Linked DNA regions of Homo sapiens. The protein of the gene in region 1 interacts with the protein of each later gene in a pairwise test. Each region holds a gene or a part of one and is shown in the gene's direction. Other genes may lie near its edges.

Region 1 (7,026 bases):
GCCGAGGCAAGATGATGGCTTGAGCCCAGGAGTTTGAGACCAGCCTGGCCAATATAACGAGATGCCTTCTCTACAAAAAAAAAAAAAAAAATTGAATATAGCCAGGCGTAGTGGCACATGCCTGTAGTCCCAGCTACTCTGGAGACTGAGACAGATGGGAAGATTGCCTGAGCCCAGGAGTTTGAGGCTGCAGTAGGCCATGATCATGCCACTGCACTCCAGCCTGGGTGACAGAGTGATACCCTGTCTCTAAAATGAATGAATGAATGAATGAATGAATAAGCCCATTGCCTAGGAGTCAATCCTGAGCATGTCCCCTCGAAGCCCTCCAGAGGTGGCCCAGCCCTGGTATCATCTCCCCTTAAGCTCAGGCCATGGGATACAGACTCTGAAAGGTAGGGCCAAACTCTGCAGTCTCTGGCTACCGTGGTTTGGGAAACAAACAAACAAACAAACAAACAGACTTTTCCACTGACTTGAGAAGGACATGGGTTCTGATCCCACCACTAACTCACTGTGTGACTTTGGGTAAATTGCATGCTTTCCTGGGTCCCCAGCCTTCCCATCTGTCCAGTGGGGACTGCCAGGCTCAGTCCAGCACTCTGGGACTGGAAGGTGCCGGGTGGAGTCCCCACTATACAGAGTGACTCTGTGTCGTGAGGCCTGGGGTGATTTCAGGCTGACCCCGCTCTGTCAGCAGGAGCTGCGGCAGAGCCTTAGGAATGCGCTGGGCCTCTGGAGGTCATCCTGGGGCCTGAAGACACCATTGGAAACCCAGATCTATGCCCCAGCTTGGCCACCAACCCACTGTGGGGTCTCAGGAAGGTCATGACAAACAATTCTTCACAGAACATTCCAGAGTGCCTCTGGGCAGGACCCTCGGGGGCAACAGATGATAAACAGTCACAGGATGCTGGCCTCATTGCTTCTTGCAGCCTCAGTTTCCCCAACTGTCTGGTGATTCTGTACCTCTTGGATGATGAGAAGCAAATGGAAGCCTCTCTCTGTATGAGAGCGGAGTATTATGGGCTGTTCCTTCTCCCCAGCAGCACTCTCTTCTCTCCACATCCCACACCCTCTTTGTTTTTCTCCACTGACCTCTTCCTCCCCCGCTTTCCTGTCCATCTGTCTGCCTCTGGGGGGTCCTGTGGGGCCACATCCCCCTCGAGTTCCCCCAGCCCCACTTCCTGTCTGGACTGGGGTGTTTATACAAGAAATGCCTATGGATGCTTTGGAGGTCATATTTCACCTGGTGCCTGACTCGGCTTTCCTGCTGCGCCTGCCCCTCCAATGGCCTGGCCTGAGGGCCTGTCTGATCTCCCTCCTCAGGCCCTCTGTTTTCCTTGGTCGGCGCCCTGGCGGGGTGATGCATTCTTGGCAGGGTGTTTTTCTGAAAGGGCCCCAGCACCTCCAGGCCCTAGGGTGTTCCAAGGGATGTGGTGGGTTGGGGTGGGGGCTGTTTCCCCAGCCACAGAGCTGAAAGGAGGGGGTTGGGGAAAGGGTGACTCTGCCCTGGAAAGAACTAGAATAAATGGGGTGCACCAGTTGAGCAGAACTTTTCTCTGTGCTGAGAATTGTGTTCCTCTTCATTATCCTGCCAACCTCACAGAATGTCACCTCCACGAGAGCAGGATTCCCTAAAACCTAGCACAGTGTCTGGCACACAATAAGTAGTTATAAAAAAAGTGATTGAAAGGAAAAAAAAATCGGCCAGGCACAGTGGCTCACGCCTGTAATCCTAGCACTTTGGGAGGCTGAGGCGGGCGGATCACCTGAGGTCAGGAGTTCAAGACCAGCCTGGCCAATATGGTGAAACCCCGTCTCTACTAAAAATACAAAAACTAGCTGGGCATGGTGGTGGGTGCCTGTAATCCCAGCTACTCAAGAGGCTGAGGCAGGAGAATTGCTTGAACCCAGGAGGTGGAGGTTGTAGTGAGCCAATATCGAGCCACTGCACCCCAGCCTGGGCAACAAGAGTGAGACTCCATCTCAAAAAAATAAAAAACAACAAAAACAAAAACCAAAAAAACAGGAAAGAAAAAAAATCGTCCCAGGTAGGAACTGTTGTTATCTCAATCTTATCAGTGAGGCAACTGAGGCACAGAGAGGTTGAGGGACCAACCTGAAGTCCCACAGCTAGAAAATGGCAACTTGGGAGCTTACCATCCAGTCCTGTCAGAGCCCAGTGCATAGTGCAGCTGGGATGTCTCCTGGGGTGTCCTGCAAGAGCTATGGCTTTGTAGTCAGCAAGCCAGGTAGGTCAGTAGGACTCATCGGGAATGTACTTGGGGCTCCAGGGGTGGCTGTCACTCTGATGTTCCACTGCTGGCTGCCCTGTCCCTGCCTTCCCCCCTTTCCCTCCCATCCTCTCTCGTCCTTGAGACATTGAAACCCCAGCCTGGAAAGAAGCTGGAGCCTGCACCCAGCTCTACGGAGCAATCTCAGACAAGACTCTTCCCTCCTTCACCCCTCAAGCAACTCCTGATTGCCAGCCTTGTACCAGGCTCTGGGATGGGCACAGGGGTGCAGAGCCGAGGGAGATGTCATTCCTACCCAGCAGGGGCCCACTTACTAGCCAGGGAGACAGAAAATGTGGGACAATGTATTAAGACTGTTGACAAAAGGCTCTGGGAACATCCAAGTGCCTGAAAGAGAGGAAAGTTATCTCTGAAGAGGTCACTTTCAAGCTAGGTCTTGCAGGATGAGTAGGAGTTTGCCAGTTGAATACAGGGTTTGGGTAGGGTCATTCTAGGCAGGTGGAGTTGCAATGCAGTGGCGCTAGGGAGGTAAGCTAGGGTTAAATTGAGAAGGTCCTTGAATGCCAGACTAAAGAGTTCAGCATTTTACTATGTGTCAAGGAGCTAAAGAAGGTTCCTAAACTCAGGATCATCTGTGATTCAGTTGGCACTTTAGAAGGATCACTCTGACAGTGAGTTTGCTGGCAAAGACAAGAGTTGACTTGTAGACCAAGTGAGTTGGAAAGACCTGTGGGACCCCAGAGGGATGTGTTGGGGAGACTGTTGGAAAAATGGGTGTGGCACTCAGGAGACAGGCAAGGCCATCTATATGGACTTGGGAACCATCCTTAAAGCAGTTCAAGTTGAAAATGGGGGCAGGTGTTCAGGGTGAGGATGGAAGGCGCTGACCTGGATGAGCCCCGAGGAACATGGGAGGCAGAGAGGCAGCAGTCACAGAGATGGGAGGCAAAGCAGAACTTTCAACTAGGAGAGGGTGGCGAGTGGGCTAAGTGCTGCAGAGTGGTCTAGGAGGAGCCAGAGGAGTAGCTGCGGAGTCTGGGCGCCTGTGGAGGGCAGCTCCAGGTGGTGCAGGGACGACGGACCCCATCTTCCCCATCAGCAACATGCCGCTGCAGAGGCCTCCACCCTCCCCGGGTGAGGGGGCTCAGGAAGGCCACGGCAGCCTGGCCGTGCATCCCCAGACTCTCGTCCGCCCCCCTTTGTCTGCCTGGCGTTCTGGGTGGGCATGCGCAGCGAGGCTGGCCCACCGCCAGCAGTTCTTCCTGCAGGCCAGCAGCCGCGCGTCGGGGAGGGAACAGGCCCTAATTGAGCCTTTGTAGAGCCTCCCACAGAGCCCTGGGCACTGAACACAGTGGGGTTTCTGACTCCATGAACTCCCAGCCAGAATCCCACAAAGTAAAATTGCAGAGGCAGGCCCCACATGCTGCTGCAGCCTGGCCGCACTTCTATAGCCCGTGTCGTCCTGACGTTAAGCCCTTCCTCATGCGGCTCCCTCTGCCTGTTCCCCTGACCCCCAACTGACATCCTGCCCATCCCTCAGGCCCCGGCTCAGAACCCGTCTCTCAATGAAGACTTCCGGGAAACGCTTATTAGAATTGCAGTCTTCAATAACCAGGCTCTTTCTCTGCGCCTTGGAGTGCGCACAACAACACCCCCTCATTTCATCTTCACCACAATCCTACAATGCAGTTTTTGTTACTCCTTTCACAGATAAGAAAACTAAGGTTCACAGCTCTTAGGCAACTGACGTTGCCATAGCTAGAGACCCAGAGCTAGAGTCCTTACGCAGACTGTCAGGCACCAAACCTGTGCCCTTCACTACTTCACCCTTCCTGAGCCTCACAGTGCCCTTGGGGGCAGAGAAAACCATGAAAGTTCATGCTTACCTCCCTGATCCTGTCTATAAACACCAGTCCTTGCTCCTTAGCCAGAGGGTCCTAGAGGTAACAGGAGACAGCGAGTAACCACCAAGGTTTTCTCAATACGTTGCAATTTACAAAGCTCTTTGATGTCTGTGATCTTGTCATCTTTCCTTGAGCCCCCTGAATGAGCCCCATGAATGATTTTTTTAAAATAAAGACTTCAGCCGGGCACGATGGCTCACGCCTGTAATCCCAGCACTTTGGGAGGCCAAGGTGGGCAGATCACCTAACGTCAGGTGTTTGAGACCAGCCTGGCCAACATGGTGAAACCCCATCTCTACTAAAAATACAAAAATTATCCGGGCATAGTGGCGGGCTCCTGTAATCCCAGCTACTAGGGAGGCTGAGGCTGGAGAATCGCCTGAACCCAGGAGGTGGAGGTTGCAATGATCCGAGATCGTGCCATCACACTCCAGCCTGGGTGACAGGAGCAAAACTCCATCTCAAAAAACTAATAATAATAAAAGCAAAAAAAATAAAGACTTCACTATGTCCTTGAGAGAACATCTTCACCCTGTCCCCTAGCCCTCACTCCAGCTCCCTCATCCCTCCTACCCCCAAGCCAGAAACCTGGGCATTATCCCCAGCTCCTTTCTCTTCTGTACCCCTCTAGCCAACACAGCAGGGTCAAAGAGGCTGCCCTCTAGATGTTTCTCAAACCGTGTTCCTCACCATTGCTGCTGCTCCTCTAGTTCAGGCCTCATTTTCTCACCTGGGCCATTTCATTAGCTATTTAATGGACCACATAGAACATGCCCATCCTTTCCTACCACCATGCTTTTGCATGTGACATTTCCCCCACCACGCGTGCCCTTTCCCACCCTTTCCTCTCTGTGTGTCAAGGCTCTCGATTTCCTCCTCTCACCCAGAGATCACCCCATCTGCTCCCCCAGCCATAACCCCTGACGACTGTCCCCCACAGTCTTCCACCAAGAGCCTGCGGACCACTATCGGCGAGGCCTTCGAGCGGCTGCACCGGCTGCTGCGTGAACGCCAGAAGGCCATGCTAGAGGAGCTGGAGGCGGACACGGCCCGCACGCTGACCGACATCGAGCAGAAAGTCCAGCGCTACAGCCAGCAGCTGCGCAAGGTCCAGGAGGGAGCCCAGATCCTGCAGGAGCGGCTGGCTGAAACCGACCGGCACACCTTCCTGGCTGGGGTGGCCTCACTGTCCGAGCGGTAAGTGCCACCCGCCGGGGCCCTCCCCGGCTGACCATCCCCTCCTCGACCCATGCTGGGCAGTGGGAGTGGAGGCAGATGGGATCCTTAGCAGAGAATTCTTTCATTCAAATCTTCATCAAACATTTACGGGACATCTGCTATGGGTAGGAGCATGAAGCCTTGAGTATGAAGCCAGTGAGGCTTGAACTAGAGGAGCAGCAGCAATGGTGAGGAACACAGTTTGAAAACCATCTAGAGGGCAGCCACTTTGACCCTGCTGTCTTGGCTCTAGGGGTGCAGGAGAGAAAGGATCTGGGAATAAAGACTTCATATATTTACATTATTATATATGTAATATATTCTGTATACATTATAGATAGTAGGTAGCATTTAATAGTGTTTACAATCATAATATAAATATATTACATATTATTTTATTTATGATAATGTTGGCATTACGTGTTACTATATAAAGGCTTTATATTACTGTAACCCTCTCAGTCCCTTTGAAAGTAGTTACCACTGTCATCATCATTTCATGCATGTAGAAACTGAGGCTCCTGCTGGGCACGGTGGCTCACACCTGTAATCCCAGCACTTTGGGAGGCCGAGGCAGGTGGATTACCTGAGGTCAGGAGTTCAGGACCAGCCTGACTAACATGGTGAAACCCCGTCTCTACTAAAAAAAAATACAAAAATTAGCCGGGCGTGGTGGCAGGCACCTGTAGTCCCAGCTATTCAGGAGGCTGAGGCAGGAGAATTGCTTGAACCCAGGAGGCAGAGGTTGCAGTGAGCTGAGATCGCGCCATTGCACTTCAGCCTGGGCAATAAGAGCGAAACTCTGTCTCAAAAAAAAAAAGAAAAAAAAGAAAAAAACTGAGGCTCTGAAAAGCTACATCAGTTGGCCAAGGCCCCCCATCTGGTAACTGGTAAGCCAGGATTCAAGCCTAGGTCTCTGTGACCCCAAATCTTCCCTTAGTAGTAATAACACTTAGTCATTGGTTTGTTGGTGATCAATACTGATTGCTAAGATCATGAATTTGGCATTGACCGTGACCGAGCACTGTGCTGAGCATCTGTATATGTTATGCCATGTAATTCTCACAAAAAGCCTAGAAGGCTGATGCTAGCATAGCACCCATTTTAAAGATGAGAAGACTGAGGGAATGGTTAGAGAGGCCAGAAGCAGCACAAGCAGGCACTTGAATCTGAGTCCCACAGACTTCTCACTCATGACCACATCCTATGCCAGCTGCCCTGAAGGTGGCTGCGGGGCCCCTGGCATTGGGGCAGGAATCCAGTCCCTGGTGCAGCCCCCTTTCCTGCTCTCCTTCCAGGCTCAAGGGAAAAATCCATGAGACCAACCTCACATATGAAGACTTCCCGACCTCCAAGTACACAGGCCCCCTGCAGTACACCATCTGGAAGTCCCTGTTCCAGGACATCCACCCAGGTAAGGCATGGGTTATCATGGTCCAGAGCTAGGTGGGGCATGTCCCAGCACAGCCCAGCCCCCTGTCCTAAACACAGCATGGGGCAGTTGGGGTGAATGAGCAGAGTGCCTTGCTGAGCACCTAGTGTGTTCCAGGACCTGTCCTGGGCACCTGCACAATCACTCAGCTCAGTGGACCTTCATAACACCCCAGGAGATGGCTGGGCGTGGTGGCTCACACCTGTAATCCCAG
Region 2 (7,752 bases), on another chromosome or scaffold:
GGCCTCTAAAGAGTAATTAAGATTAAATGAAGTCATCAGGGTGGGGCCCCGATCGGACAGAATTCATGTCCATGTGAGAAGCGACACTGGAGAGCTCACTTTCTCTAATACCCACATTGCCTGCACAAGCACCTGAGGAAAGGCCATGTGAGGACATAGCAAGAAGGCAGCCGTCCACAAGCTGGGAAGAGAGCCCTCATCAGAAATCAAATCAGTTAGAATCTTAATCTTGGACTTCCAGCCTCCAGAACTGTGAGAAAATAAAACCTGTTGTTAAAGCCATTTGGCCTGTGGTATTTTGTGATGGCAGCCCAAGCTGCTGATACATCCTTGCACATCCAATATACATTAGTTATTGTTGTTATCTGTTGTTAACTGTTACTTCTCATGTCCAAAGTCCCACAACAAGGAAGTCAGTGAGTGGTTGAGCCCCACTGAGGAAGCAGGTCCTTCACTCATCAGGCCACCTTCCTGCTCTTGTGGCAAGAATACCCCCAGCTCCCCTCCTGGGACTCCCTGACTCCTTGATTGCCTCTATCCATCCCTCCACCTCAACCACAAGGGCAGGGCTCATGGTACAGGAGGGGTGTGTGTGTGTGTGTGTGTGTGAGACTAACCCAGAGGAAGGGGGGGTGTGGGGTAAGCACGAGGATCAAAAGAAGCAGGAAATTCTCTTCTGTCTCTGGTTCCTGGGAACTTCTTCTTTTTTTTTGCCTGCTCTTGTTGCCCAGGCTGGAGTGCAATGGCTCGATCTCAGCTCACTGCAACCTCCACCTCCCAGGTTCAAGTGATTCTCCTGCCTCAGCCTCCCGAGTAGCTGGGATCACATGCATGCACCACCACACCTGGCTAATTTTGTATTTTTAGTAGAGACAGGGGTTTCTCCATATTGGTCAGGCTGGTCTCGAACTCCCCACCTCAGATGATCTGCCTGCCTTGGCCTCCCAAAGTGCTGGGATTATAGGCACGAGCCACCGCACCTGGCCCAGGAACTTCTTTAAGCTCTAGGAAGATGGGGAGAGCTGGGGTAGTTCTGAGATTAACCGTCCCTACTCCAAATAGGAACAAGCCCAAGGAATGGGCATGGAAAGAAATCAACTGATCCTTCCTGATCCAAGTTCTTCCTTTGAAGATGCACTGAAGGTTCTTGGAGACATTTGAAAAATCTGAACCTCTTGCCCAGAACTCTAGAGGCATTATAAATAGATAACGTACTTTCACACCTACAAGGTGTCTGCTCACATACACCATCTCATTTTATCCTCATAAGAGACTGGCAAGCCTTACAGCTGGCAGAGCTCAGTCTTGGAAGAGACATACCTCATATGTGCACGTCACTTAAGAGGCCTTTCTCCTACCACCTTTTGTCATCACACAGATGTGTGTCTCTTCCTCTCAATGGTGAAGACGAGCCAGCCTAACCAATCAATGCCTGAATCCCATCGAGTACCCCATACAGGGCCTTGTATAAGTAGGTGCTCAATAAATTTTGTAGATGGATGAATAAATGCCAGTGACCAGATCAGGGAGAAGTAAAACAGGGTCTCCTACTGGAGAAAATAGTGTTGCTGTTGTTCTAAGGGAGCAAGCTCAGGCATCTGTTCCTACAGCCTGGTACATTCACTCTGAGGCAGGCACCTGACATCATTTTAATATTTATTATGTTATCATTATCATAACTGTCACTTATTGTCCACCATTCAAAGTTAAGTTCTTTGCAAATATCAACTCATTGTTTCTCACATCCACTGTTATGAGCTCCATTTAACAGATGAGGAAATGGAGGCACAGACAGGTTAAGTAATGTGCCCAAGGTTATTTAGCCAAAAATAGTGGAGCTGGGATTCAAACCTGATTGTTTATATCCTGGAATTACAATTTTCTTGTTTTGCTTTTTGAGACAGAGTTTCGCTCTTGTCGCCCAGGCTGGAGTGCAATGGCCCGGTCTCGGCTCACTGCAACCTCTGCCTCCCAGGTTCAAGTGATTCTCCTGCCTCAGCCTCCCCAGTAGCTGGGATTACAGGCGCACGCCATTACACCTGGCTAATTTTTGTGTTTTTAGTAGAGACGAGGTATCGCCATGTTAGCCAGGCTGGTCTCGAACTCCTGACCTCAGGTAATCCGCCTGCCTTGGCCTCCCAGAGTGCTGGGATTATAGGCATGAGCCACCATGCCAGGCCTCGGACTTAGAATTTTCTTTTCTTTTTTTCTTTGAGCGGAGTCTTGCTCTGTCCCCCAGGCTGGAGTGCAATGGCGTGATCTTGGCTCACTGCAACCTCTGCCTCCTGGGTTCAAGCGATTCTCCTGCCTCAGCCTCCTGACTAGCTGAGATTACAGGCACCCACCACCATGCCCGGCTAATTTTTGTATTTTTAGTAGAGACGAGGTTTCACCATATTGGTCAGGCTGGTCTCGAACTCCTGATCTCAGGTGATCCGCCTGCCTCGGCCTCCCAAAGTGCTGGGATTACACGCGTGAGCCACTGCGCCCGGCGACTTACAATATTCTAAGTTCCTCCACTTCCCTCAGCTTAGCCTCACAATGGTCCTGGCAAGCAGATAGGAGTTTCCGCCGACCACCCAAGGCCATAACTGCACATGGGGGCAGATGTGGAACTAGAACCCAGGTCTCCCTGGGGCTTGTTCTGACACACAAAGGTCTGCATTGTGAAAGGACATGAAAGGCACACCAGTGGGCTGCCCCACTGTGTGGGGACTTAGGACCCAGCTATATCCATGACTGTTAATTCACCTCGGGATGCAGCGTTCCTGTAAGAAAAGAAAAGGAGAGCTACGATACGTGGACAGAGGCTTTTGCTCCAGTTTCCATAGACACTGCCCCGTTTGCTCATGCTGTTCCCTCTTGTTAGAACATCTTCATCCCACGCTCTTACTTCTCGCTGACTCATCATGTTTCACAATACACTTGGATTTTTCTCTCTTCCGGGAAACCTCTGCCCCTCCCTGAAGAGGGATAAAGTGACCCTCCTCATACTCCCAGAGTACCAGGTGATTCTCTATAGCATTATCATTAAAAATCAGGGGCTGCATTCTCTCCCTCTGTCCCAGTAGTCTGGGAACTAACTCCTCAGGAGCAGGGACTCCCCTTTCTCATCCTGGTGTTTCCTATTGGCAATGCCTGCCACTCAGTAGTAGGCGCTTGTTGACTGAGACTATTGATCACAGGCAGGTTCGAATGTCTTTGTTCCCTCATCTCTACCCCTGTTAAGGGATTACGGAGTGTCCTATTCATTTCGGGCATATAGAAAATGCTGTTAAAGTTCATTGAATTGAATGAAACAATTAATCGTTCTGCAAAATCTGAGCAGAGAAGTCATTTGGTTTCAAAATACTTGGATAAAAACATTACGGTGGCTCACGCCTGTAATTCCAACACTTTGGGAGGCCGAGGCGGGTGGATTACTTGAAACCAGGAGCTCGAGACCCTGACTCTACTAAAAATACAAAAATGAGCCGGTCGTGGTGGCGCGCGCCTGTAAATCTCAGCTACTCAGGAGGCTGAGGCACGAGAACAGCTTGAACCGGGAGGCGGAGGTTGCAGTGAGCCGATATCGCCACTGAACTCCAGTCAGGGCGACAGTGAAACTCTGTCAGAAAAACAAGAAACAAAAAAACTGTGAGGTACTGAGATCACAAACTGGTGCTCAAAATATACTGATTTCCTTTCTCGTCTGGACTAAACGGGGGTAGGGAAGGGTGAGAAGGAGGGGATCGGCCCTCCCAACAAGTCTCATCTTCCCCAGATGCTGCTTGGTGCTCAGGGGCTGCAAGTACTCTGTCCTTGCACAGAGGGTTGGGGACTCCAGCTGTGCATGGGGGCACACATTAGGCCCACAGCTTGTAATGGACCAGTAGTAAAGTAAGGGAGGGGAAGCAGACTCTCTCTTGGAAAGGAGGCTCCTGAGTCCTTCTTGGGGCTTCCCCCACCAACTGTTTCCCAAACCAGCATACAGTAGGCACTTAGTAAATACTAAACCTAGTAAAGGACTGAATGATGGTAGACCGAACCCCCAAAGCAAAAGAGAAAGGGTCCAACAGCGCCTCCTTGCGGTGCTCTGCCCCAAGCCACGGGGAGAAACGTTGCAGCCCGCGCCGAACGCCGGGCAGCACAAAGGATCCCCGACTGCCGGGGAGCGGTGCTCGGAGGGCACAGGTCTACGCCATCCCCCACGCAGTTTCGGAGATGGAGCGCTGGGCCCATGGAGGGAAGGCGGCAGGCTCGGCGGCTCCGGCAGCTTGCTGGGGCAGGGGCTCAAGGCGGCAGTCCGATAGTGGAGGCCGCTGAGAACTGTCACGGAGCTGCGTCTGTACAGCGAGCATCCCTTATTTATTCAGGGCGAGTGTGTATTTGGGGCGGCGTGCAGGGGGCTGACAAAGACCGGAGAGCTCCCGGTGCGGCCGCCGGCGGAGCGAAGACTGGAACCCGTATGAGCGCCCCCCAGCGCCCCTGAGCGCTCGCCGCCGGTGCACGGCGCACCCCGCGGGAGGCAGGGATCAGCAAAGCCGTGCGCCCCGAGGCCCGCCCCCGTCTCCGCACAAAGACCGTGAGTCCCGGGTCCGAGCCTTCCGCGCGGGGATCGGGCGGTTGTCCGGCGGGTCGTCCTTCGACGGCCTCCTGGCCTCGCCGGAGCGGGTGCGGGGAGGCCCACGCAGCGACGGCTGGAGGAGGGGTGGGCGGGGCTGCCGGGGGTGGGGTCCCCGGGGCGGGGCGGGGCGCGCTGTGTCGCGGGTCGGAGCTCGGTCCTGCTGGAGGCCACGGGTGCCACACACTCGGTCCCGACATGATGGCGAGCATGCGAGTGGTGAAGGTAACCGCGTATAGGATGACCCCTTTCTCTTGGCTCCCCTCGCCTCCCGCATTCCCTCCTCCCTCCATCCCCTCCGCGGCTCTCCGAGCACATTTATTTATTTGTCTGGGCACCAGGGCTGGCTGAATCCCTGTCCTCCCCGCCCTCTACTCAGAGGAGGACTGGCCTGCAAGAGTGGCCAGAGCTGGGGTTTTGGGGGTTTGGAGGCCTCTGCTTGAGCCGTTCGCGTGGTGAAGATGAGCCGGCTCCCCCAAAACTGGTTTCAATTTCGCTTTTCCTGCCTGAAACTTGTGATAACAACTGGGTGCATCTCCAGTGCAGGAAAAGTCCTTGGCATCTTGGTGCCAGGCATTCTGCTACTGCTGGTGGTGGGTTATGAACACAGATGACCAGGATGAAGTCCTTGCCTTGGAATAAGCCCATAGCCCATCCCATAATTTGATGCCTGTATTACTAGAGTCCTGAGAAACACGGAATGCTGATTAGAATTTGGGACAAAGTTCCCTGAGTATTCTCTGGAGGAAAAGATGCGGAGGTGGACCTGGAAGGCCTCCTGGAGTAGGTGGCTTGCGTTCGTGAGTTCTACAAGTGTTGAATGCCTACATGTGCTGGCCCTGTTCTAGGAGGGGGGGGGGGGCGGGCAGAGATGAACACAAATCCGGCCCTTGTTGAATTTTGTTCCTATCAGGGACACAATTTGAAATAAGATCTGGAAGGATGGGGAGGGGGCAGTTTCCTCCAGAAGGTGGGAAAACCCAGGGTGTTTGGAGATGGATTAGGGAGGAAGGTGATCCTGGTGAAGTGAGTCTGGCACCCCAAGTCTTTCAGAAGTGCCCCTTCCAGTCTGCAGGGTGGAGGGGCAGGCTCTAGGAAGAGGGTGCCTGCTACCCTCAGCCTCTGAGAAGAAAATGGCCTCAGACTGGGATGCCCAGAGCAGGCTTGGCCTAGATACTAAATCTGGAGGTTGGCAGCAAAATGAGGCAGAGGGTCTTTCCAGCCAAGTGGAAGAGAGATGGGAGCCAGAATTTATTGCATTGGAACCATTACATGCCAAACGGTTTACATGGTTATTTCATCTAATTCGCACAGCAGTTCTGTGAGATAAGTAATATATACCCGCATTTTACAAATGAGGAAATTGAGGCACAGAGGAAATAACTTGCTTGTCCAGAGTCTTTCAGTAAGGAGCAATGGGACTGGAATATGAAACCAGGTCCACAGGCCTCCAGCCTGCAGGCTCTCTTAATGGCCTTTCTACTTTCATTTTCTGTTCCTCTGAGTCAGGTGATTTCCTAGTAGGCAGTAGGAAAGAACTGTGTGTTTTAGGTTGGGTTTCAACTTCCTCAGGCTTTGGGAAAGTTCTGGCAGAACTCATCCTAAACAGATAAAGTTCAAGTGTCTTTATCTTTCCAAGACCTGGAAAATGTCTATTCCAGATCTTCTCCGGTCAGCCCTGGGCTTTGTTCTTGCCAAAGAGTCACAGATGATAGAGAAACTCTTACAAGTGCAGATGCTTCTAGTTTGGGGTAAAGATAAATGAAGGGCCATTGACCCTGGGTGGAAGGCACCAGAAGCAGCTTATTGGTTGAACAGAAATAGAACATAGGCTGAGGGATAGGAGGGGGGCATGGGATGTGTTTATATTATATGTTGGGGGTGGGGGTAAGGCAGAGAAAGTTCAAATGGTCCACAGTGTTAAAGGACCCCTCCCCACTTGTGGACTGGGTTTGGAGAGCTTCAGTTTCTCAACCTCATCACTACTGACATTTTGGGTCACATAACTGTTATGTATCCATTGTATGTTTTTAGATTTGAGGTTACTACAAGGTTTGTAAATAATATCTTATAACCTGTTATTTTAAACTGATGACAAGTTAACACTGATTACATAAACAAACAAGCAAAATGAAAACTAATGAAGGCCAGGCGTGGTGTCCCACTCCTGTAATATCAGCACTTTGGGAGGCTGAGGTTCGCGGACTGCTTGAGCCTAGGAGTTCGAGACCAGCCTGGGTAACACAGCCAAACCCCATCTCTACAAAAAGTACCAAAATTAGCCGGGCATGGTAGCACACTGCTGTAGTCCTAGCTACTTGGGAGGCTGAGGTAGCAAGATCACCTGAGCCCAGGAGGTTGAGGCTGCAGTGAGCTGTGATTGTGCCACTGGACTCCAATCTGGGTGACAGAGTGAGACATTGTCTCAAAAAAAAAAAAAAAAAAAAAAAAAACAACTAATACAAACTGTATACTTTAACTTCGTCTTTCCGCTTACTAACTTTTTGTTGTTTCTATTTCTTTCCTTCTTTCTTTCTCTCTCCCTTTCTTTCCTTCCTTCCTTCCTTAAGATGGAGTTTCACTCTTGTTGCCCAGGCTGGAGTGCAATGGTGCCATCTCAGCTCACCGCAACCTCCGCCTCCCAGGCTCAAGTGATTCTCCTGCCTCAGCCTCCTGAGTAGCTGGGATTACAGGCAGGCACCATCACGCCTGGCTAATTTTGTATTTTTAGTAGAGACGGGGTTTCTCCATGTTGGTCAGGCTAGTCTCGAACTCCTGACCTCAGGTGATCCACCCACCTCAGCCTCCCAAAGTGCTGGGATTACATGAGCCACTGTGCCCGGCCATTTCTATTTCTTTCTTATTGTACTGTCTACCTCTTGAAAAATTGTTGTAGTTATTATATTTAATTGGTCATCTTTTCCTCTTTCTACTTAAGATATGAGTAGTGTATATACCATAAATACAGTGTTATACTAATCTGTGTTTTTCTTTCTTTTTTTTTTTGAGACGGAGTTTCGCTCTTGTTGCCCAGGCTGGAGTGCAATGGCACGATCTCAGCTCACTGCAACCTCCGCCTCGTGGGTTCAAGTGATTCTCTTACCTCAGCCTCCCGAGTAGCTGGGGTTACAGGCACCCGCCACCACGCC
Region 3 (7,108 bases), on another chromosome or scaffold:
CCAGCTTTTGGTTTTATGAATCCTCTCTTCTGTATTTTGTATTCTATTTTGTCAATTTCTGCTCTTTAGCATTTTTTCTTCACATTTTTCCTTGTCTGCTGAGTTGTTGTTCCTTTATTAACTTCTTGATGAAATGCTGAGCTACTTATTTTCCAGTCTTCTTCTCTAATATAACCAGTTAAGCTTATATATTCTCCTTTAGCTTCTGTTAAAACTCCATCAGTTTCGGGCCAGGCTCTGTGGCTCACCCTGTAATCCCAGCACTTTGGGAGGCTGAGACAGGTGGATCACTTGATGTCAGGAGTTCAAGACCAGCCTGACCAACATGGTGAAACCTTGTCTCTACTAAAAATACAAAAATTAGCTGGGCATGGTGGCCTGCTCCTGTAATCCCAGCTACTTGGGAGGCTGAGGCAGGAGAATCGCTTGAACCCAGGAGGCAGAGGCTGCAGTGAGCCAAGATCCTGCCACTGCACTCCAGCCTGGGCGACAGAGAGAGACCCTGTCTCAAAAAACAAAACAAGATGAAACAAAAAAGACCCAAACAAACCAAAAAGCTCCTCAAGTTTTGGAATGTATTTCCATGACCATTCCATTTTACATTTGTGTCCATCAATTTCCTCTTTTCCATCCTGCTCTCTGCCCCGGGGCTGCCTGTGGGAACTACAAGGGGCTTCTTGCTGTGCCCTCTGTCTTCCATTTGGGTTCAGCCATTGGGGATTCCTGGCAGGAGACAGAAGAGGAGATCGAGGTCAGGGTATCTATGTCCCTGAGCTCCTCTCTGAGATTGCCTCAAGCTGCTTATTTATGTCCCTTGACAGAAGGTCATTGCTTCTTGCATGGTGGTTTGCTCTGCAAAAAAATCTCACTTGGGATTTCTCTAACTTCTCTCTGTTCTCATCTCTTTGGACGTATGGGTTGTGACAGTTCTACTGTTACTAGTATGAGATCCTCCACTGTTCCTTGTGATTTCCACATATCTTACCCAGGCTGGAGTGCAGTGGTGTCATCATGGCTCACTGCAGCCTCGACCACCTGGGCCCAAGTGATCCTCCCGCCTCAGCCTCCAGAGTAGGTGGGACTACAAGCTTGCACCACCGCACCTGGCTAATTAAACTTTTTTTTTCTTTTTTCAGAGATAGGGTCTCCCTATGTTGCCTAGGCTGGTCTCAAGCTCCTGGGCTCAAGTGATCCTCCTGTCTTGGCCTCCCAAAGTGCTGGGATTACAGGCATGAGCCACGACACCCATCCTTCATATTCATATTCTTTTTTTTTTTTTTTTTTTTTTTTTTTGAGACGGAGTCTCACTCTGTTGCCCAGGCTGGAGTGCAGTAGCTCATTCTTGGCTCACTGCAAACTTCACCTCCCGGGCTCAAGCGATTCTCCTGCTTCAGCCACACGAGTAGCTGGGATTACAGGCACGCACCATCACGCCCAGCTAATTTTGTATTTTTAGTAAAGATGGTGTTTCACCATGTTGGTCAGGCGGGTTTGGAGCTCCTGACCTCAGGTGATCCCCAGCCTCGGCCTCCCAAAGTGCTGGGATTACAGGTGTGAGCCACCGCAACTGGTCAGTCCTTCATATTCTTTAATAATCCAAAAAAGCTTTTCAAGGTTGTATTATTCATTACTTCTTTATTTATTTTTCCCAGTTCCCTGGTTATCCATGGAAACTGTCTCATTTTCTTCCCTTCTTTCCCCCCCTCCCCCCGACCATGGAATCTTTTTGGCCACCTGTCTAATTTTCTTTTATCTTATTTTTTAATTTCTAAAAAAATGCCTTCTGGAGTTGTGGATGCCACAGACTTTATCACCTTTTCCTGCACTGTTAATCAAAATCATATCATTAAATCTGAATTATAAGATTTTGGAAATAAACCTGATAAACCTGCAGAGCTCATTACTGGCCTCTCCATCTGATGGAGGTACAGTAATCACTGTGTTTAGTTTTTGTAGTTAATGGTGTTATACCATTTTACGTGGAGCTTGATTTTGCATGGCTGGCTAGTGACTCAGCCTTTAGGATGAAGGGAGACAGAGGTAACACTTTCTTGATTTGGCTTTCTTCCCTTGCCTGTTTTTGCACCTCTGCATCAAATGTGAAGGAATCAGCTGCCGAAATTTATGACTGATCCCTGCCCTTCCTCAGCCCATCTAGAGAACTGCAGCAACCTGGAAGGCAGTGCCAGGACCAATCTGTCATTTAACTTAAAATACATTTTTTTTTTTGAGACGGAGTCTTGCTCTGTCACCCAGGCTGGAGCACAGTGGCATGATCTCGGCTCACTGCAACCTCTGCCTCCCGGGTTCAAGTGATTCTCCTGCCTCAGCCTCCCAAGTAGCTGGGATTACAGGTGCCCGCGCCACCACAGCAGCTAATTTTTGTATTTTTAGTAGAGATGGGGTTTCGCCATGTTGACCAGGCTGGTCTGGAACTCCTGACCTCGGGCGATCCGCCCGCCTCGGCCTCCCAAAGTGCTGGGATTACTGGAGTCTGCTTTCTTTTACATCAATCATATCTTCTTGAAACTACAGCCCGACTGGGTGTGGTGGCTCACGCCTGTAATCCCAACACTTTGGGAGGCCGAGGCGGGTGGATCACTTGAGGTCAGTAGTTTGAGACTAGCCTGCTCAACATGGTGAAACCTCGTCTCTATTAAAAATACAAAAATTAGCCAGGCGTGGTGGCGTGTGCCTGTAATCCCAGCTACTTGGGAGGCTGAGGCAGGAGAATCGCTTGAACCCGGGAGGCGGAGCTTTCAGTAAACTGAGATTGCACCACTGCACTCCAGCCTGGGCGACAGAGCGAGACTCCCTGTCAAACAAAACAAAACAAAAAACTATACCCCTTGATTTGACATGGCTCTTTCTTAATTCTCCCCAATAGCATGTTTACTCTTAGGATGTGTCAATTCTTCAGACAGCTCATCCCATCTTTTATTGGGCCATTTTCCTATGAAGATGCAAAATATGTGGGTGGAGGTTGGAAGGTGGGAGGCTAAAACAAACGGAATCACTTGGAATCTCTTTTAACTTTATGGGCAAGGTGGGGGATTATTGGATTTGAGCGCACCCCACTCATGTAACTGTTTTGCAAAATACTTAAAATTATTCAAGGAACACACGAATATCTTTTTTTTTTTTTTTTTTTTGAGATGGATTCTTGATATATTTCCCAGTCTGGTCTCGAACTCCTTGCCTCAAGCGATTCTCCCACCTCGGCCTTCCAAAGTGCTGGGATTACAGTCATGAGCCACCGCGCCCGGCCAATAATGTTTGTTTAAAAATAAAAAGATAAATAAGAAACTCGAAGTAAGGTCCGCTTTGACCATCGTCCCGATCGTTCTCTTCTCTGGAGGTAACCGTTACCAGCGTTTTGAGCACACTTTTCCAGTCTCCTTTCTATATGTTTTCTTTCCTCTACTGCATATACAGAGTTTCTTTTTATACAAATGACGCCTCTTGGGGTCTCATTAAGACCCTAACGGGAGACGTGATGGCCAATTTATTTAAGGAAAGCAGACTAAACAATCGTTTATGAAAACCTACTGGGTGGCAACCCCGCGCTAAGTGCTTTCTTTGGCATGAAGGGTTCTGGTATTTCACTCGTCGCAATCGGTTAGCTAAGCCATTAGTTTAGAGGCTGGGGGGCGAGTACGGGGAGAGTCGCTTCAAAGCGAGGAGGTAGGGTTTGCATTTTGATGGGACCTGCAGGAAACCTAATAGAGTGCGGTACAACCGCAAAACAGAAAAATGCTGTCATCGGCAGTTGGCTCTGTCAATAAAGCTTGCGAAGCTGAAATGCGAAGAACTATCTGCCGAGACCGAAGCTTCCTTCGGAATCTAGGAATCGACACCGCGCCTGCGAGGCTAGCCTTGGAGCCCGGAGAGGAAGGCACCAGCAATGGCAAAAAGGATGCACTGAGCAGGCAGCAACCGAGCAGCCAACCCGAGAGCTGGGAGCGCGCGGGCCCGGTCGGAAAATGCGCCTGCGCAGACCGCTGGGGACGGGAGGGGCGGGGCTCGAGGGGCGGTCAATGCGCCTGCGCACACCGCACGGCGAAGTGGGGGAGGGCAGTCCGTGTGTGTCTGTGTTGTTGTTCGGCGGCGGCGGCGGCGGTAAGATGGCTGCCCACGGGGGCTCCGCGGCGTCCTCGGCGCTGAAGGGGTTAATTCAACAGTTCACCACCATTACCGGTAAGAGACGCGGTTACCGGAAGGTGGAGAGTGGGGTCCGGAGCGGGCAGCGGGTCTGCCCCGGGCTTCCCCTTACCTTCAGGCATTCCTCCTTCGGGCTTTACCCACAGCTGCCGTCCTCCCTCCTGAGGAAGAGGCGACGACGGCGTCGGGGTCTCCGGGTTCAGGCGGGAGACAGCCCCCCCCCGCTCCCGATACCCTCGTTCTCTGTCTCCTAGTAGCGTGGAGGGAGATCCCCCAACCCCCCGCCAGCCCAGACCTGGGAATGGGCCGAGTCCGTCCGCCCCCGCCGGCCCGGGGACCCGGGGGCGGGAGGAGTAGGGGGCCGCACCCGGGCCACCGCCCTCCTCCTCCTCCTTCATCATCTTCCCTTCTCTGTGCAGCCCTGCGGTGCGGTGCATCTCCTCACCTCCTTTTTTCCTTTCTTCCCCGGCCAGGTCATTCTGCCCCGGTCCCCGGCCTGCCCTTCCCCTTTCTGGGCCCCTCGGAGCCATCGCCGTGGCCCTGGCGGGTTCGGGCCCTCCCGCCTTCACGGCAAGGCCGGTGGGTTCGGCCGTGCCTTTACACTTCACGGGGGACAGGCCGCCAGAAGCGGGGGGTGCTGAGGAGGACCTCAGGGACTGAGGCTTTGAGGGAAGAATGAGGGGGAACCCCCAAGCTGAATAGGGGAGGCCTGGAAGAATCCAGGGTGGCGTTTCCCACCTCCCCATAATAAAATCATAAAGACGGAGACGATGGCGCCGGGGCCTCCTGCTGATAAGATAGGGATGGCGGCAGAAACTTCTTTGAGAGAAAATCTGTTTCTGGGTGTCGGTATCCCCGAAACCCTAGGCCTAGGTTCTCTCCCTTTGGACCCCTGCGAAGGACACACGCAGATCCTCTTACCGCCTGGAGGAAAGGCCCTAAAGCCATTCTATGAATTCTCTCTGTCTTGTTTCTCTCTGATGGTGCTGAACTTTTCTTGCATGAGTTATTAGAGGGCGGAGCAAATGATGAAGTTCTCTGTGGAGTGATTTGAGAGAAGAGTACTCCAATGTGCCTGAGTGTAATTTTGCCGTTCTAGTTTGTCGTTTTGGAAGGAGGTCAGAATGTTAGTTCCCTCTCAACGGATCTATACTTTATCTCGTAATTTGTTAGATGCGGAGAATGTTTCCACTGTTAATGTTCCTAGAGTTTAACGTGCAATATCTGGTTAAGTAAAATTTTATATTGTTTTAACTACTACAGGTTGTATACTAGTTACCGTTTTATATTAAAGCAAGTTTTATTTTTTTGCTTTGCAATGATAACGAGATATTTGACGCATTGTTATCTAGCTTGTGGGCATGGAACATCAGGTCAAAGTAAAGTAAAATTTGCAATAAAATTGGGGTGAGGAGTTGCATGATAACTTCTCTTAATATTTTTGAACTTTGTGATTGGATTATTGAAGATATAAAGGATTGGATTATTATATTAAATATGTAAAGGATTTCCTAATGTCTGACAAATCATTGCTATGGAGAAGATTATTGTGTATATAAGTTAGTGTTGCTGCATTATGCTTATATAGAAAAATCTTTGCAGTGAATCTGATAGAGAAGTGAATATCATTATTAATCCTTTAGATTTCCTAGAGATGGTTTATGATGCCACTTGGGCCTGGCGCGGTGTCTCACGCCTGTAATCCTAGCAGTTTGGGAGACGGAGGCTGGAGATTCACATGGGGCGAGGAGTTGCAGACCAGCCTGGGCAAAACATAGTGAGGCCCCATCTCTACAGAAATAAGAAAATGAGCTGGATGTAGTGGCACCGACATGTAGTCCCAGCTACTGGGGAGGCTGAGGTGGGAGGATTGCTTGAGCCTAGGAGTTCAAGGCTGCGGTGAGTAGATCATACCACTGCGCTCCATCCCTGGCAACAGAGCAAGATCATTTCTCAAAAAGAAAAAAAAAGCCACTTATTATTATTATTATTATTATTATTTTGAGACAGTCTCGCTGTGTTGCCCAGGTTGGAGTGCAGATCTCCCAGGCACGATCTTGGCTCACTGCAACCTCCACCTCCCGGGTTCAAGCGATTCTCCTGTCTCAGCCTCCCGAGTAGCTGGGACTACAAGCGCCTGTCACCAGGCCCGGCTAATTTTTGTATTTTTAGTAGAGGCGGGGTTTCATCATGTTGGCCTGGCTGGTCTTGAACTCCTGTCCTCAAATGATCCACTCACCTCAGCCTCCCAAAGTGCTAGGATTACAGGCGTGAGCCACCGCGCCTGGCCCTAAAAGCCACTTAATTAATTTTCAGTTTCTTATGCTAATTACTACTCTTCCCAAACTCTGATTGGTTTAACGCCACATTACTTCTTCTGTTGCAACATTTTTATTAGGTACACACAAAAACCGAAGTGTGGTGAGTTGAATTGACTCACTTAATTGCTTTAATTCTGTTTCTGTTCGTCTACGTAGCTTGATTGCTGGATCAAGTTGGAGTCCCTCAATCAGTAGACAGTGGTATCTGGAGATCTACAGAGCGAAAATACCTTTGAGTGTTCTTCAAATATTGTGAATTTCTATTGATAATTTTTGGGATTCTTTTTACAAGATAGTGATTAACCGTTAGAAACACATGATTGATTTCTTTTTGCCTTTTTTACATGTCTTAAAATTTTTTTGGGGTTCTCTCCACATACGTTTTAATCGTAGTGTTTATAATTAAAAGGTATTTTATATTTATTTTAGTGACCTTAATAGCTTATGCTCTGATTTCACAAAGGTTTTACTTGGAAGCTCAATATTCTTGTAAAAACAAATGCATCATCAAAAATGTGAGTCCTTACTTTTTAGGCAGGAGCAAAAAAAAGAAAAAGAAAAAATAAAAATAAATGTGAGTCTTATCTTTTTTTGGCATTTAGAAATAGAACGGAAAATTGAAAGAT

What was found. Proteins that work in one complex are often made in the same cells at the same time.
Region 2: the proteins of TRIM62 (region 1) and UBE2L6 interact in binary tests that used the Homo sapiens proteins (3 or more experiments, as listed by UniProt).
Region 3: the proteins of TRIM62 (region 1) and UBXN7 interact in binary tests that used the Homo sapiens proteins (3 or more experiments, as listed by UniProt).

The regions. Positions count from the first base shown.
Region 1 is NC_000001.11:33,158,021-33,165,046, reverse strand, and holds part of TRIM62 (E3 ubiquitin-protein ligase TRIM62), read left to right. Parts: exon of another isoform or gene 1-4,081; coding exon of another isoform or gene 4,082-4,195; intron 4,196-5,102; coding exon 5,103-5,359; intron 5,360-6,678; coding exon 6,679-6,794; intron 6,795-7,026. UniProt on the Homo sapiens protein: E3 ubiquitin ligase that plays a role in antifungal immunity by mediating 'Lys-27'-linked ubiquitination of CARD9 downstream of C-type lectin receptors; leading to CARD9 activation, followed by activation of NF-kappa-B and MAP kinase p38 pathways.
Region 2 is NC_000011.10:57,564,661-57,572,412, reverse strand, and holds the start of UBE2L6 (ubiquitin/ISG15-conjugating enzyme E2 L6), read left to right. Parts: upstream 1-4,740; 5' UTR 4,741-4,801; coding exon 4,802-4,828; intron 4,829-7,752. UniProt on the Homo sapiens protein: Catalyzes the covalent attachment of ubiquitin or ISG15 to other proteins. Functions in the E6/E6-AP-induced ubiquitination of p53/TP53. Promotes ubiquitination and subsequent proteasomal degradation of FLT3.
Region 3 is NC_000003.12:196,429,416-196,436,523, reverse strand, and holds the start of UBXN7 (UBX domain-containing protein 7), read left to right. Parts: upstream 1-4,096; 5' UTR 4,097-4,124; coding exon 4,125-4,197; exon of another isoform or gene 4,198-4,322; intron 4,323-5,082; exon of another isoform or gene 5,083-5,139; intron 5,140-7,108. UniProt on the Homo sapiens protein: Ubiquitin-binding adapter that links a subset of NEDD8-associated cullin ring ligases (CRLs) to the segregase VCP/p97, to regulate turnover of their ubiquitination substrates.